Linked DNA regions of Homo sapiens: region 2 is linked to region 1. The links come from fine-mapping of genetic effects on gene expression. Tissue or cell type: testis. Region 1 holds a variant in brackets; the other region holds the start of a gene. All regions are shown on one strand. Distances are between the middles of the regions.

Region 1 (8,103 bases):
GCATGGTTGTGTGCACCTGTAGTCCCAGCTACTCAGGAAGCTGAGGTGGGAGGATCACTTGAACCCAGGAGTTCAAGCTTCTAGTGAGCTATGGTCATGCTACTGCACTCCAGCCTGGGCAACAAAGTGAGATCCTGTCTCAAAAAATGTATATGTGGGCTGAGAATTTTCCTGAACTGACAAAAAACAGAAGTCAGTTTAAAGTACTGAGCAAGATAAATAAAAATAAACCTACATGGTAGATACATTGTAGAATCTGCATTAATGATAAAGAAAATTGTTTATATGAATTATAAGAATGATTAACTCCAAAGGAATGGCAGGAGTTTGACAGCAGTTTGCTTGATATCAGTGATAGGTGCGAGGTGACAACTGGGTGGTATCTTTAAAGTGCTGAGAGAAGATAAGTAACAACCAGAATTCTCCACTGAATTAAATTTCACTCCAGAAGGTAAAATAAAGATATTTTGAGGTAGATGAAAACTGAGAGCATTTACCACTCACAGGCTTTTGCTGAAAGAACTACAGGTTTATGTATATTAATAAATTTCACAATTCAAAAAAAGCTTTGAAAACCTGAAGTTGTCCTTTGGTAAGTTTTCAGCAACCTCATTTGTGGGGCAAACTTGACCTAAACTAGTTCATGGGCTAATTTTGGTCTTTGTTTATCCCACTTAGTGTGAATACTTATATGTTTCACTGTGGAGACTTTAATATGTTTGAATCCATGGGGTGCTATCCCAACCCTGCTGAAGGTGTTATATCACATCTGGTTTGTGCAACCTTTATAAAATCTCAAAATTTGTCACTTCCAAACCAGAAAGGTCCCAGGATTTCAGATAAGTGATTATGGATCTTATTAAAGGATTATGGATCTTATTTCTTTAGCAAGAAATAATTGAACCAAGAGTGAAGGAGCAGAATGTGGGAAACAGTAGTGAGCATGAAAATTGATTTGATAAATGTAGGTAAACTTAATTAATTATTGATTTTTTTAAAGTAGTCATTTTTTTCTTTTTTCTCTTTTTTTTCTTTTTGAGATGGAGTCTCACTCTGATGCCCAGGCTGGAGTGCAGTGGTGCCATCTAGGCTCACTGCAACCTCCGTCCCCCGGGTTTAAGCAATTCTCCTGCCTCAGCCTCCCGAGTAGCTGGGATTACAGGCACCTGCCACCACACCTGGGTAATTTTTGTATTTTTAGTAGAGACGGGGTTTCACCATGTTGGCCAGGCTGGTCTTGTACTCCTGACTTCATGATGCACCCGCCTCAGCCTCCCAAAGTGCTGGGATTACAGGCGTGAGCCACCACTCCCAGCCTAAAGTGGTAATTTTTACATTTAAAAAGGTATATTGTCCTGTAGGTATGGGGGTGAATTTTTTAAAAAAGGAAAAAAAAGGAAAAGGTAGATATCAAAAGAAATAAATGACATCCAAATTGGAAAGTAAAAGGTAAAACTATATTCACAGGTTACATGGTCCTATGCATAAAAAGCATCCTAAAGAATCCACCAAAAGAAAAAAAAAAAAAAAAAACTTCTAGAGCTTATAAATGAATTCAGCAAAGTTGCAGGGGACAAGAGCAACACATAAAAATCAGTTGTTTCTATATACCATCAATGAACAATCTAAAAAGGAAATTAAGAAAAGCAATTCTGTTTAAAAGAGCATCCAAAAGATTTAGTCTATTAGGAATAAGTCTAACTGAGGAGGTGAAAGACTTGCACACTGAAAACTATAAAACATTGCTGAATGAAATTAAAGAAGAGCTAAATAAATAGAAAGACACCCTGAGTACATGGATAGGATGATGTAACACTGTTAACATGTCAGTTCTACCCAAAGCAATCTACTGATTCAACACAATTTTCTTTTCTTTTCTTTTATCTTCTTTTCTTTTTTTTTTTTTTTTTTTTTTTTGAGACAGAGTCTCACTCTGCCACCCAGGCTGGAGTGCAGTGGCGTGATCTCGGCTCACTGCAACCTCCACCTCCCAGGTTCAAGTGATTCTCCTGCTCAGAATCCTGAGTAGCTGGGATTACAGGCATCCACCACCATGCCCGACTAATTTTTGTATTTTTAGTAGAGATGGGGTTTCACCATGTTGGTCAGGCTGGTTGATTGAACACAATTTCTTTTCTTTTTTTTTTTTTTGAGATGGAGTCTCACTCTGTCTCCCAGGCTGGAGTGCAGTGGCTCAATCTCAGCTCACTACAACCTCCACCTCCCGGGTTCAAGCGGTTCTTCTGCCTCAGCCTCCAGAAAAGCTGGGATTACAGGTGCCCGCCACCACACCTGGCTAATTTTTGTATTTTTAGTAGATACAGGGTTTCACCATGTTGGCCAGGCTGGTCTTGAACTCCTGACCTCAGGTGATCTGCCCGCGTCAACCTCCCAAAGTGCTAGGATTACAGACGTGAGCCACCGCACCTGGCGATTCAACAAAATTTCTATCAAAATAAATAGGCTTTTTCACTGAGAGAAGAAGCTAATCCTCAAAATCATATGGAATAGCCAGGACAATCTTGAAAAAAGAATATAAAATTGGAAAGTTCAAACTTCCCAACTATAAAACTAGCTATGAAGCCACAGTAATTCAAGTATTATGGTCCTGGCATAAGGACAAACATATAGACCACTGGAATAGATTAGGAAGCCCAGAAATAAATCTTTACATATATGGTCATTTGATTTCCTGCAAAGGTGCAATTCAATAGGGAAAGGACAGTCTTTTCAACCAATGGTGCTGGGAAAACTGGATATCCACGTGTGAAAGAATGAAATTGGACTACAACACTCTTAGAAGAAAACAGGGGACAGTTTTCATAACATTAAATTTAGCAATTATTTCATGGATATAACACCAAAAGCATAAGGAACAAAAAATATAGATAAATTGGACTTCATCAAAATTAAGAACTTTTGTGCATCAAAGGATACTATCATGAAAGTGAAAGGACAACCTACACAATAGAAGAAAATATTTGCAAATCATATATCCAATAAGGAATTAATATCCAGAATATGTAAAGAACTCCTGCAACTCAACAACAACAAAACAACCCAATTTAAAAATGGGCAAAGGACTTGAAGAGACATTTCTCCAAAGAAGATATCCAAATGGCCAACACATGAAAAGATGCTCAACATCATTAGTCATTGGTAAAATGCAAATCAAAACAACAATAAGATGCCACTTCACATCTTCTAGGTTGGCTGTTTTTTAAAAAGGAAAATAGCATGTGTTGCTGAGGAGGTGGACAAATTGGAGCCCTTGTGCATTGCTAGTGAGAATGTAAAATAGTACAGCTGCTCTGGAAAACAGTTCGGTTGTTTCTCAAAAGGTTAAACCTATAACTACCATATGACCCAGCAATTGCACTTGTAGGTATACATCTAAAAGAATTAAAGAAGGAACTGAAACAGATACTTGTATACAAATCATAGCAGCATTATTCACAATAGCCAAAAGGTGGAAGTAACCCAAGGGTCCATCAACAGATCAATGGATAAACAATAGATGGTACATACATACAAAGGAATATTATTCTGCTTTAAAAAGAAAATAAATTTATGGCCCTGCAGTGGCTTACACCTGTAATCCCAACACTTTGGGAAGGTACGGTTGAAGGATCATTTAAGGCCAGGAGTTCAAGGCTTGAGACCAGCCTGGGCAACATAGGGAGACCCTGTCTCTATTATTTAAAAATTATGAAGGAAGGAAAGAAGGAAGGAGGGAAAGAAAGAAAGAAATTTTGATACATGCTACATGTACGGCCCTTGAAGACATTATTCTTAGTGAAATAGGCCAGAACGACAGATATTACATGATTCCACTTATATGAGGTACTTAGAATAGGCAAATATATAGAGATAGAAAGTAGAATAGAGGTTATGAGGGTCTGGGGGGTGGGCAGAAGGGGGTGTTGTTGTTTAATTGATGTAGAGTTTTTGTTGGGGATGATGAAAAAGTTTTGGGTATTGATAGTGTTCATGGTTGCACAGCATTGTGAATATATTTAATGACACTGAATTGTACAGTTGCAAATGGTTAAATGATAAATATTATGTATAGTTTACCACATTAAAAAAGTTTTCCAATTTAAAAA[G/C]AGATAGATTCTAGTCACATTCTAAAAAATAATATCAGAAGATGAGAAGACTGCACATAAGTTATAGAAAGTGTGCTTTGGGCTTTGTCTTGTTTTATTTTTATTTTTGTTTTGTTTGTTTATTTATTTTGAGACAGGGTCTTGCTCTGTCACCCAGGCTGGAGTGCAGTGGTGCGATCACAGCTCACTGCAGCCTTGACCTCCTAGGCTCCAGCAGTCCTCCCACCTCAGCCTCTCAAGTAGCTGGGACCAAAGGCATGCACCACCATGCCCAGCTAATTTTTGTAATGTTTCATAAAATCAAGGTTTCACTATGTTGCCCAGGCTGGTCTCAAACTGCTGAGCTCAAGCAGCCCACCCACCTCAGCCTTCCAAAGTGCTGGGATTATAGGCATAAGCCACCATGCCTGGCCCATTGTCTTGTTTTGGAGAGTTATAAAGATAATGAGTATTTTCAGACATTTTCAAAAATATGTAGATAGGCCAGGCGCGGTGGCTCATGCCAGTAATCCCAACACTTTGGGAGGCTGAGATGGGTGGATCACTTGAACTCAGGAGTTTGAGACCAGTCAGGGCAACATGGTAAGACCCCATCTCTACTAAAAATCCAAAAAAATAGCTGAGTGTGATGATGCCTGCCTTTGGTCCCAGCTAATTGGGAGGCTGAGGTGGGAGGATCAGTGCTTGAGCCTGGAGGGCAGAGGTTGCAGTGAGCCAAGATGGGGCCACTGCACTCCAGACTGGGTGACAGTGGGAGACAATGTCTGGGGAAAAACAATGTAGATAAATATTATGTTAATGTTTTAAGATGGGGTCTCACCATATTGCCCAGGCTGGACTCAAACTGCTGGGCTCAAGCGATCCTCCATCCTCAGCCTCTGAGTAGAACTACAGGCATGCACCACCATGCCTGGCTGATTATGTTAAATTTTAATACTGAAAGATTATAGATTTTGTCTATAGCTTCCAAACTAACAGGGAGGGTAGAAAAGAATTAAAACAAAACTTTACTAACACAATAGAAGGTGGGAAAAGAAGGTGGGGAAAGGGAAAGAAGAATGGATAATGGGAAAGACAAAATAAGATATCAGGTCAGAAATTAATCAGATACACTGAAAAGCTACTCGTTAACATATAGTGACTGTAAGGTTGGGTAGAGAAGCAGAATCTAGCCATATGCTATTTACAAGAGATATACATAAACAAAATGACCTAGAAGGGTTATTAAAGGCACAGAAACAGATACACCAGGAAAATACCAATCAAAATAAAGCTGGTATTGCAATATTATAATAAAAATATCAGACTCAAAGCCTGGAATTTAGAAAAATTAGTAAGATATAGACTTTCAATATTTCCTGTGTGGCTAGCTTCAAAGATACATTCTACCTGGCATCACTTACCTGTCTTTCTTATCTTTCTAAATCAATTTCCACAAATATTTATGAGTAACTATCAGTTAGGTAATGAGTCAGGTAATATAGTAGAGGCAAAGATGAGTACAGCCTAAGTGCTTACTCCATAGAACTGACAGTCTAATAGGAGAAAGTCCAGTAACTTTAAAACAAAGTAGCAAATTGTGAGCACTGTTAGAGAGTTTTAAGTGAGATACGATGGAAATTGGGCATGGGAGATAAAATCAGGAAAAGACTTTACACAAAATTGGCATTTGAGATGGTCTTTAAAAGCTATACCAAAGCTATAATTTCACTAGACCATGACCTAGACATCAGCTTTTTCCCCCTTAGAATATGAAGCACAATTTGGGACTACTTCTTTGCTGGACAGTTTCATAAATTTAGGCTACAGTATTATCATTTCAGACTTCATTTGCTGGAAATGTAGCCTACTGCATTTACCTATAACAGCTCATTTGCTGTATTTTTTATTTTCCTTTCCTTAAGACAATAGCACTGCGTGGTTAGGTTAACACTTTCATTGCTTTTGAAAGCCCCTCTTCTAACCTAATCTTTTGCCAGGTGATGTCCGCATACTTCCTCAGGGTGTCTTAGAAGTAGATTTCTATGCTAGCTCTCCATGAAAGGAGAAGAGTATATAATTTGCTTTTTCATACAGTGCTGTTACTATTAGGAAGGAACTAACTTTATTCTAAATGAAAACACACTCTATATTAAAGACAAGTTAGATACTTTCCCATGAAGTTGGTCTAGGAGAAGGGAAACGGAATAGATGCCTCCTGAAATTTTTTCCTGTTCCATTCAGAGTCAGATTTTTCCCCCCCTTTATATGGTCAACAAATGAAAACTGGCATTTGGAATTACCATCGTTCCCCCCATTGCTTGCCATCTTCAAATTTAATGTCTGCCTCTCCACAAAGATTAACATGTTTCCACTCCTGATTTACTTGTCAGGGAATTTAGAAGTTTTCTGGAACCTAAAGTTCACTCTGGTAGGGATGATTACTGGATAATTGCCTATTCTTCGGTGGAATTTCCACTTTTAGATTACACCAGGCTCTACAGCCTTTATTTCTTTGGCAGGAAAACCCAAAGGCAATGGAGTATATTTTTTTCCCTTCCCTGGCCCAGCTTAAACAATGACTCACTTGGGCCCTGGGGCTTTGCTTCATACTCTCATTTAGGGGCCACTTTATACCCTTGTTTCTATTTTCCTTTCTTGTTCTGTTTGGACCCTTTATATCCTTTGGCACATGGGATTTGTCTCTGGGGTTATTGTCAGAGAGATATATAAAACCACCCCAAACTGGAACAGCCACTCCAGTTATGTCCCCATAGCCATGTCATCCTTATGGCAGCTGGTATAGGCCAGGGAGAGTACAGAAATAATATCTTTTTTCTTTTTTTTTTTTTTTTTTGAGACTGAGTCTCACTCTGTTGATCAGGCTGGAGTGCAGTGGCATGATCTCGGCTCACTGCAACCTCCACCTCCCAGGTTCAAGTGATTCTCCTGCCTCAGCCTCCCGAGTAGCTGGAATGACTGGTGCACGCCACCATGCCCAGCTAATTTTTGTATTTTTAGTAGAGACAGGGTTTCACCATGTTGGCCAGGCTGGTCTCCAACTCCTGACCTCAAGTGATCCACCCGCCTTGGCCTCCCAAAGTGCTGGGATTACAGGCGTGACCCACTGCGCCCAGCCCAGAAATAATATCTTTAAGGAAACCTAATTCCAAATGCAGTAGAGGGAAAAGTATTCTCCAAAAAGAAAGATATGAGTGCCAGTGTCATCCAGTTAGAGGCTAAAAGGCTTTCCTCCATATGCGTTGCTCGAATGACTGATTCAGATGTCCTCTGTGTGTACCTGTGGAAGGTGGGAAGCACTCAGAGGAACTGGCCTCCAAGAGTTTTCGGAAAGGTATGGTTATATGAAGAGACTTCCCCATAGAAGGACTAGGTCTAATCTAGAGTTCAGAGTTTTGTTGGGGAGAAAAATTCCCCGTTTTTGGCAGTGGTTCTCTCTGGTCTCAATTTTTCATTCTGATTCCAGCCTTCTGGATTCCATCTAACAATGACTTCTTGACTTTTCTCTTTGCAGTTTTAACAGTGTATGCCAGGGAACACACATTCTCTTTCGAGAATTCAGCTTCGTCCAAGCCACCCCCCACAATAGGGTATCATTTTTACGGGCCTTCTGGAGATGCTTCCGAACTGTGGGCAAAAATGGCGGTAAGTCTTCCCAAATTCTTTTTCCTTCCTTCCTTCCTTCCTTCCTTTCTTCCTTCCTTCCTTCCTCTCTCTCTCTTTCTTTCTCTCTCTCTTTTCCTCTCTTTCTCTTTCAAACTTTTTCTTTTGTTCCTATAAATATTGTTTGAATGCATGCTATTCAAGGCATTTAGAATACCTCACTTTTGAGGAGTTGTCTGGTTTATGTCAAAGATATTACTATTACCACTACCATCACTAATGGTACCTATTAAGAGCCAAGTGTAGCTCTTTACATGTAGTAACTCATTTATCTTTACAAGGGCTCTCTGTGGTAGATACCATAATCCCCATTTTGTAACTAATGAAACTGAGG
Region 2 (8,103 bases), 110 kb before region 1:
CTTGTCCTAGTTTCTTGAACCTGTTTTATAGCAATAATTCAGCCTGCATTTATTCTTTCCTTATTGCTTCCTTGAAGTTTAAAACTGTTTAGTGTATTCACCGTTTGCTTTTCTATAGTCTTCAATTATAGGGAGGATTTTCTTCCCTATCAATCTCTTAATAGGTCTTCTGCAGAGCCAGAGATGTCTATTAATTTTCTCATTATAAAATCAGAAATTATAATCTGATAAATTGATGTCTCAGCTGGGTGCAGTGGCTCATGCACTTTGGGAGACTGAGGCAGGAGGATTGCTTGAGCTCAGGAATTCGAAACCAGCCTGGGCTACCTAGCAAGACCTTGTCTCTACAAAATTAAAAATATTATCTGGATGTGGTGGCATGCACCAGTGATCCCAGCTACTCAGGAGGCTGAGGTGGGAGGATTACTTGAGCCCAAGAATTCCAGGCTACAGTGAGTTGTGATTGTGCCATTGCACTCCAGCCTGGGTGACAAAGGGAGACCTTATATATACTAAAAAACAAAACAAACAAACAAACAAAAAACAAAAGGTGCAGTGGCTCACACCTGTAATCCCAGCACTTTGGGAGACTGAGGCGGGTGGATCACTTGAAGTCAGGGGTTCGAGACCAGCCTGGTCAACATGGCGAAACCCTGTCTCTACTGAAAATACAAAAATTAGCCGGGTGTGGTGGCACACACCTGTAGTCCCAACTACTCGGGAGGCTGAGGCAGGAGAATGGCTTGAACCTGGGACACAGAGGTTGCAGTAAGCAGAGATTGCACCATTCCACTCCTTTCTGGATGATGGAGTGAGCCTCTGTCTCAAAAAACAAACAAACAAAAACAAAAACCATCTCAATATATTCTCTCTCTTGTTTTTTTCTTATTGTTCTGAATTTGATGTTTACAGTCGTCATGCTGTAGTACTGCCTTTAACATCCGATGCTCTATTTATCATCAATATCTTATCACTTGCCTCTTTTCAGGATTATGGAGTTGTCTTCTGACTTACCGATTTACCTCGGTGATTTTTTTTTTTGGTAAATTTTTAAGAAATATATTATGATAAGTTAAGAACCTGAAAAGTCAATTTAAATCAAAGGCTGACATTTTTTTTCTTTCTTTCACATTCAAGTCACAAAAAATACACTTAATTTTAACAACTCTTATATATTTCTACTCTTCTTAAGACTGATGTAGTGTATGTTTCATTGAAAAATTTCACCAATAACCAATGTGTTTCAAAAATCTATTATCATGTAATCTGTGACAGAAGAGAAATCTAGCAGTGGCTTCTTTTTGGGAAAAACAAACACTGTCTGGAAGGTCATCACATCTGCTTAAAAAATTTTAAAGATTTTCAGGCCACTCATTTATTATTTGTTTTCAGGTTATAATACATGCCTATTATAGAAAGTTTAAGACTATAGAAAAATATAAAGAAGAAAAATGTAAACAGTCAGTAATTCCACTACCAGTAAGGCCACCTGTTATTTCGGTGAAACTTCAAATTTTTGTGAAGCCTTACTCTAGCAACCTCCTACTTTTCTAAGTCCTCCTCCTCAATAGACTGTTCAGGACATTCAGAGTGGAAGACTGACTTTGAATACAGGGGTCCTTCGGATTTTTATGGAAGGGATGGAACTGTAGGAAAAACCTACAAATTGCTCCAGAGATGACATCTTGTTCTTATTTAGCCTTCTTTGAGTCATTAACAGTCGGGCGCCACTGGTGCTGAAACTTATCATTATTATAACCACAAATGGGTTAATGCCCAAACAAAGCTATATTCTTGGGGCTGGTTCCCAGCTCCACCACACAGACCCCAGCAGCCAGCACCCGCCAAGTCCCAGGATAATGCTCCACAAATAAGACGATGTCAAATGTTCAGCCTGGACTCAACATTATCTTCTTCTATCTGGGAGCTTCCAGTTGCTAGCAGGGCAGAGCAAAAGGAAAAATAAATAAATAAAAGCCAGGTCAACAAACCCTAAAAAAAGAGACTGTGTGGTTTAGTGGTCAGACCACTGGCCTGGATGTTGGGATAGCTGAGATCCAGTTGTAGCTCTACCACTATGTGGCTGCATGATGCTAGACAAGTCACTAGACAAGTCACTGTTGTGACTTGTGCCTCAGTTTCCCTAGTTAGAAAATGGAAAAGTGCCTTAGAAAGGTTTTTTTTTTTTTTTTTTTTTTTTTTTTGAGACGGAGTCTCGCTGTGTCGCCCAGGCTGGAGTGCAGTGGTGCGATCTTGGCTCACTGCAACTTCTGCCTCCCCGGTTCAAGTGATTCTTCTGCCTCAGCCTCCTGAGTAGCTGGGATTACAGGCGTGCGCCACCACGCCTGGCTAATTTTTGTATTTTTAGTAGAGATGGGGTTTCTCCATATTGGCCAGGCTGGTCTCGAACTCCTGAACTCGTGATCCGCCCACCTCAGCAGAAAGTTTTTATGAGGACAAATAAGATTATTTGCAAATAGCTACAAGTTGCTTGGGAATAAAGTAAAATTATCACTTAATAATTACTATGGTATTACCTTATTAATAAAATAGTAAAAAGCCACAGTTATGGAACATATGAACCTCCCATAACCTCAAGCTAGATGGGGGAAGCAGATAAGAAGGCAATTAAAAAAAAATCAGATTTGCTGGACTTCACACCAAATACCAAATTAGTAAATTTGCCTCAAGACACTAAGCCCTGCTCCTACTTTGGCTCTGTCCTTTTAACCTCACCACATCCAAACTTAGAGTGACTCACAGGAGCCTAGAATTGAGACACATATACAATTTTAAGGGAAAGCAAGAATTAGGAGGTTTGAGGCTCCTTACTGGAGGACGCTAAGAATAGGCCACTCGGAACACAAAGAGAAGAACCTCCTCTTTCCTTTTCCTCCCAGTGTAGGTGGTCTACTGGTTTCCCAGTCATTCCTTTGATAGCTTGATTTTGTTTTCTTTGTCTCTTTTTCACAAACCTCACCTTGTTGGAGGGGGAGGGCACTAAAAAAGTGAGGACAGAGTGGCTTTTTCTGCTATGTCTGAACTGTGTCTAGTGCTACAGATCTCTGACCTGTTGTCAGGAGTGGAGAGGGGCGAAAAGAAATATTTAGGAACTTGAAAACCAGTGAATATTCTCTTAAAGAAGAAGTGAGCAATTGGGCATATAGGGAAAAAAATCTAACTGGTGTCCTCGTTTCTGCAGCCCCTCTCCCTCAAGAAGAGCAATGTCTTGGTAGGAAAAAGGAAAGACACCTGGGAAAGGTACCAAATAGTAAGGGCTAGGAATAGAAAGAAGAACCAAAGATAAAAAGGAATTGAGCCTGGGCGCGGTGGCTCACGCCTGTAATCCCAGCACTTTGGGAGGCCTGAGGCAGGCGGATCACCTGAGGTCGGCGGATCACCTGAGGTCAAGAGTTTGCAGACCAGCCTCGCCAACATGGTGAAACCCCATCTCTACTAAAAACACAAAAAATTAGCCAGGCGGAGTGGCGGGCGCCTGTAATCCCAGCTACTTGGGAGGCTGAGGCAGGAGAATCGCTTGAACCCGGGAGGCGCTGGTTGCAATGAACCGAGATCACGCTACTGCACTCCAGCCTGGGCGACTGAGTGAGAATTGAGAAGAAATGGCAATTAGTTCAGAGGACTTAATGAGTACCTTTTGTGTGTCCAGCCGTCATAGGCAGAAAAGACACATCTCTGACCTCTAGAAGCATCCAGGGTATATGCATACGTAAGCACTTTGTAGCAATTTAAGATAGTAAATACCAAAGAGATAAAAATAGCTAATGGGATACTAAGTGTTTATGGGGGCCAAAGGGCGGGGGCTATTACTGAGTTAGGATAAACAGTGTATAAAAGCAGGGATAGTTATGAAATTCAGAAACTGCGTATATGGGCGGCTGACAGTAATTCTTCGACACTGGGAAACATAACGGATTCAAAAGAATTCTTCATCTCAGATTCCTCTAAAACCAAGTCTTCAAGAATGGGAGTCCAAAGAAACCTGGACCATCGTGAAGCGACTGCCCCCGGAACTTGAGTGGCCAGCTCCACTTTGCGACACGGAGACTGTTTGTGTGACACCTCCTCCAGCTCCCGTCCCCCTTCCGCCGCGTGGGTGCCATGGCAACGGAGAGAGACGGCAACCTGGGTTCCGGAAGCCGGAGAGCTGGAGCTTTGAAGCCACCCCGGTCAAAGGATGCTGAGTCCGGAGCGCCTAGCCCTACCGGACTACGAGTATCTGGGTAGGAACCCCCTTTAACTTTGGGGAGGGAAAGACGTGCAGACGAATTAGGCCAGGGTCTGGGAGGAGGCGGGGGCGGGGTCTGAGTGGGATCGGGTCCGGGTGGTATGGGGAGGGGCGGAGAGGCGGGGGTTCCAGGGCCTGAGCCTGTAAGGCCGAGCAGGAAGGAAAAAAGCACCTGGGAAGTAAAGAATGTTTGAAGTGTAGGGGCTGGAACTCAGGCAATGTGGATTGTGTTCAAATGGGTCAGGTTGGCGTTGAGGATTTGGGGCCCTGTTGGGGTATTATTGATATGCTGGTAGTGGAGTAAGAATAACCTTGGAACCTCAAGTGCCAAATCAGTCAGCGAACATTTCGAGCTTTTCTTTTTCATTAGGCACTGTGCTAAGCATTTTTCATGCATCATTCTTCATTTGAATTTCTCAACAGCCCTAGGAGGAATTACCGTGTTTTCTTCCAGTTTTGCAGGTGGAGAAACTGGGGCTGAAGAGGTAACTTGCGTTAAGTTAGGCCACACAGCTAGAAAATGGTAGCGCTAGGATCAGAACCGGATTTGCCCACTCCAACAGAACTTGAGATATTGACTTGGCTCTTGAGCTAAGACTGTATATGTAGTACTTTGTTGAGCATCTTTAGTGTATAAGGCATTTAATGAATGAAAAAAGGCACACACACGCATAGATATGTACACACACACACATATGCACACAATACACATTTTATTTTATTTTATTTTTGAGACGGAGTCTAGCTCTGTCGCCCGGGCTGGAGTGCAGTGGCGCGATCTTGGCTCACTGCAAGCTCCGCCTCCCGGGTAGCTGGGACTACAGGCGCCCGCCACCTCGCCCGGCTACTTTTTTGTATACTTAATAGAGACGGGGTTTCACCGTGTTAACCAGGATGGTCTCGATCTCCTGACCTCGTGATCTGCCCGCCTCAGCCTCCAAAAGTGCTTGGATTACAGGCGTGAGCCACCGCGCCCGGCCACAATACACATTTTAAATAATTCATAGACTTTTATTTTTTTAAAGACGTTTTGTTTTGTTTTGTTTTGTTTTTTGAGACAGAGTTTCTCTCCTGTTGCCCAGGCTGGAGTACACTGCAACCTCTGCCTCCCGGATTCAAGCGATTCTCCTGCCTCAGCCTCCCGAGTAGTTGAGATTACAGGCATGCGCCACCACGCCAGGTTAATTTTATATTTTTAGTAGAGACGGGGTTTCACCATGTTGGTCAGGCTGGTCTCAAACTCCTGACCTCAGGTGATCCGCCCACCTCGGCCTCCCAAAGTGTTGGGATTACAGGCGTGAGCCACTGCACATGGCGAGAAGTTTTAAGTTTACAGAAAATTGAGCAGATAGTACGGCGAGTTCCCATATACCTTGGGTCTCCCTCACTCACAGTTTCCGCTATTATTTACATCTTGCATTAGTGTGGTACATTTGTTACAATGGATAAACATATATATTTATAATATATAATAATATATTATATATTATTATTATTATATAGATATATTATTATAGATACATATTATTAACTAAAGTCCATAGTTTACATTAGGGTTCTTTGTGTTGTTCAGTTCTGTGGGTTTTGATAAATGCATGTCATGTATTCACCATTCCATTATCATACAGAATAGTTTCACTGTCCTGAAAAATCCCCTGTGCTCCACCTATTGATCCTTCTCCCTCCCCCTGCAGCCCTTGCCAACCACTGATCTTATGGTCTCTAAAGTTTTGCCTTTTCCAGAATATCATGTAGTTGGAGTCATACAGTGTGTAAATTTTTCAGATGGGCTTCTTTAACTTAGCAGTAAGCATTTAAGTTTCCTCCATGTCTTTCTGTGGCATGATAACTCATTTCTTTTTATTTCTGAATAATATTCCATTGTATGGATGTACCATGCACATCTTTTTTTTTTTTCTTCTTCTTTTTTTTTTTTTTTGAGACAATGTCTGGCACTGTCACTCAGGCTGGAGTGCAGTGGCACTATCACGGCTCACTGCAGCCTCAACCTCCGGGCTCAAGTGATCCTGCTACCTCAGCCTTCCAAGTAGCTGGGACTACAGGCACATGCCACCATCCCTGGTTAATTTTTTAATTTTTTGTAGAGAAAGAGTCTCACTATGTTGTCCAGGTTGGTCTTGAACTCCAGGGCTCAAGCAAGCCTCTTACTGTGGCCTTCCAAAGTACTGAGATTACAGGTGTGAGTCACTGCACCTGGCTTACATCTTTTTTTTTTTTTTTTTTTTTTTTTGAGATGGAGTTTCACTCTTGTTGCCTAGGCTGGAGTGCAATGATGCGATCTGGGCTCACCCCAACCTCCGCCTCCTGGGTTCAAGTGATTCTCCTGCCTCAGCCTCCCTAGTACCTGGGATTACAGGCATGCGCCACCACGCCTGGCTAATTTTGTATTTTTAGTAGAGATGGGTTTCTCCATGTTGGTCAGGCTGGTCTCAAACTCCTGACCTCAGGTGATCCACCCACCTCGGCCTCCCAAACTGCTTGGATTACAGGCGTGAGCCACCGCGCCCAGCCAACATCTTTTTAAATGAAAAACAATTCTGGTTTACATTTTGTTTAACTTATTTTAAAAATTAATTTTAAAATATTTTTTAAGGTTGGTAATATGGAAACTTGATTCAAAGTATTTTTTAGGCCTGGCATGGTGGCTCATGCCTGTAATCCCAATACTTTGGGAGGCTGACGTAGGAGGATTGCTTGAGGTCAGGAGTTCAAGACCAGACTGGATGATAGAGTGAGACCCTGCCTCTAAAATGCATAGATAGATAGATAGATAGATAGATAGATAGATAGATAGATAGGTAGATGTTTTTAGTGAAAAGCCTACCCCTTTGCCTCCATCTGCCCAGTTTCCATCCATCCTCAGCCTCCCAAAAGTAACCACTATTATTGTTTTCCTGTGTATCTTTCCAGAGTTTATTATATACATAAAGGAGTATACAGTGCATACTTTTTCATTTAATACATCTTGAAGTAATTTCCGTTTCTTTTGTTTTTTCTTTTCTTTCTTTCTTGAGACAGAGTCTCACTCTGTCACCCAGGCTGGAGTGCAGTGGCACCATCTCGGCTCACTGCAACCTCCACTTCCTGGGTTCAAGCCATTCTCCTGCCCCAGCCTCTCAAGTAGCTGGAACTGCAGGCACGAGCCACCACACCTGGCTAAGTTTTTGTATTTTGGGTAGAGATAGGGTTTCTCCATGTTGCCCAGGCTGCTTTTGAACTTCCTGAGCTCAAGCGATCTGCCCACCTTGGCTTCCCAAAGTCCTGGGATTATAGGCGTGAGCCACTGCGCCTGGCCTCGAAGTAATTTCTCAGTCAGTAGGGAGCTTCTTCGTTCTTCATGAAATTCATTTTTAGCTATATAGTATTTAAATAATTTATTTAACCAGTCCCGCACTGGTAAACAAGTTGTTTTTAGCCTTTTGCTGTTACTAAGAATGCTGCAATGAATAACCTGCAGTTTTGTTCCTTTGCAAGTGTATCTGCAAGAATAAGTTCCACAAAGTGGAATTGGTGGATTAAGGGCATATGCATTGAAGTACTTATAGATATTGTCAGATTGCCCTTAATAGGTGTTGTACCATTTTGCCACCAGCAATGAAAGAGAATGCCTGTTTCCCCATTGTGCTGACAACAAAATACATCAAACTTGGATTTTTTTCAATCTAAGTGACAGATAGTCTGAGTAGATTTAATATGCATTTTTAAATGAAGTTGAGTGCCTTTTTACCAAGTTTAAGGGCTGATTGGTCTTTGAAAGCTATATATATACACATATATACATGAACATATATATAGACATATATATAGAGAGAGAGCTTAAGACAGTGACCACA

Which allele goes with the higher level. Positions count from the first base shown, and alleles are read on the strand shown. Sizes are in standard deviations (SD) of each study's normalised expression.
As copies of G replace C in region 1, the expression in testis of the gene that starts at base 4,154 in region 2 goes down (moderate effect, 0.50 SD a copy in GTEx).

Evidence for each region. PIP is the estimated chance that this variant, and not a neighbour inherited with it, causes the effect.
Region 2: CSTPP1 starts here. The variant in region 1 is fine-mapped to the expression of CSTPP1 in testis (GTEx, PIP 0.96).

Annotation. Positions count from the first base shown.
Region 1 is chr11:47,044,768-47,052,870 of GRCh38, forward strand. CSTPP1 (centriolar satellite-associated tubulin polyglutamylase complex regulator 1) reads left to right here. Exons shown (of 9, transcript NM_024113.5): 3 at 7,621-7,751. Among named protein-coding and RNA genes, the nearest start is that of CSTPP1, 110 kb to the left of the region's middle. The variant G/C (reference allele first, on the strand shown) is at 4,107.
Region 2 is chr11:46,932,608-46,940,710 of GRCh38, forward strand. CSTPP1 (centriolar satellite-associated tubulin polyglutamylase complex regulator 1) reads left to right here and starts at 4,154. Exons shown (of 9, transcript NM_024113.5): 1 at 4,154-4,244. The coding sequence starts at 4,199. RefSeq lists an enhancer at 4,012-4,221.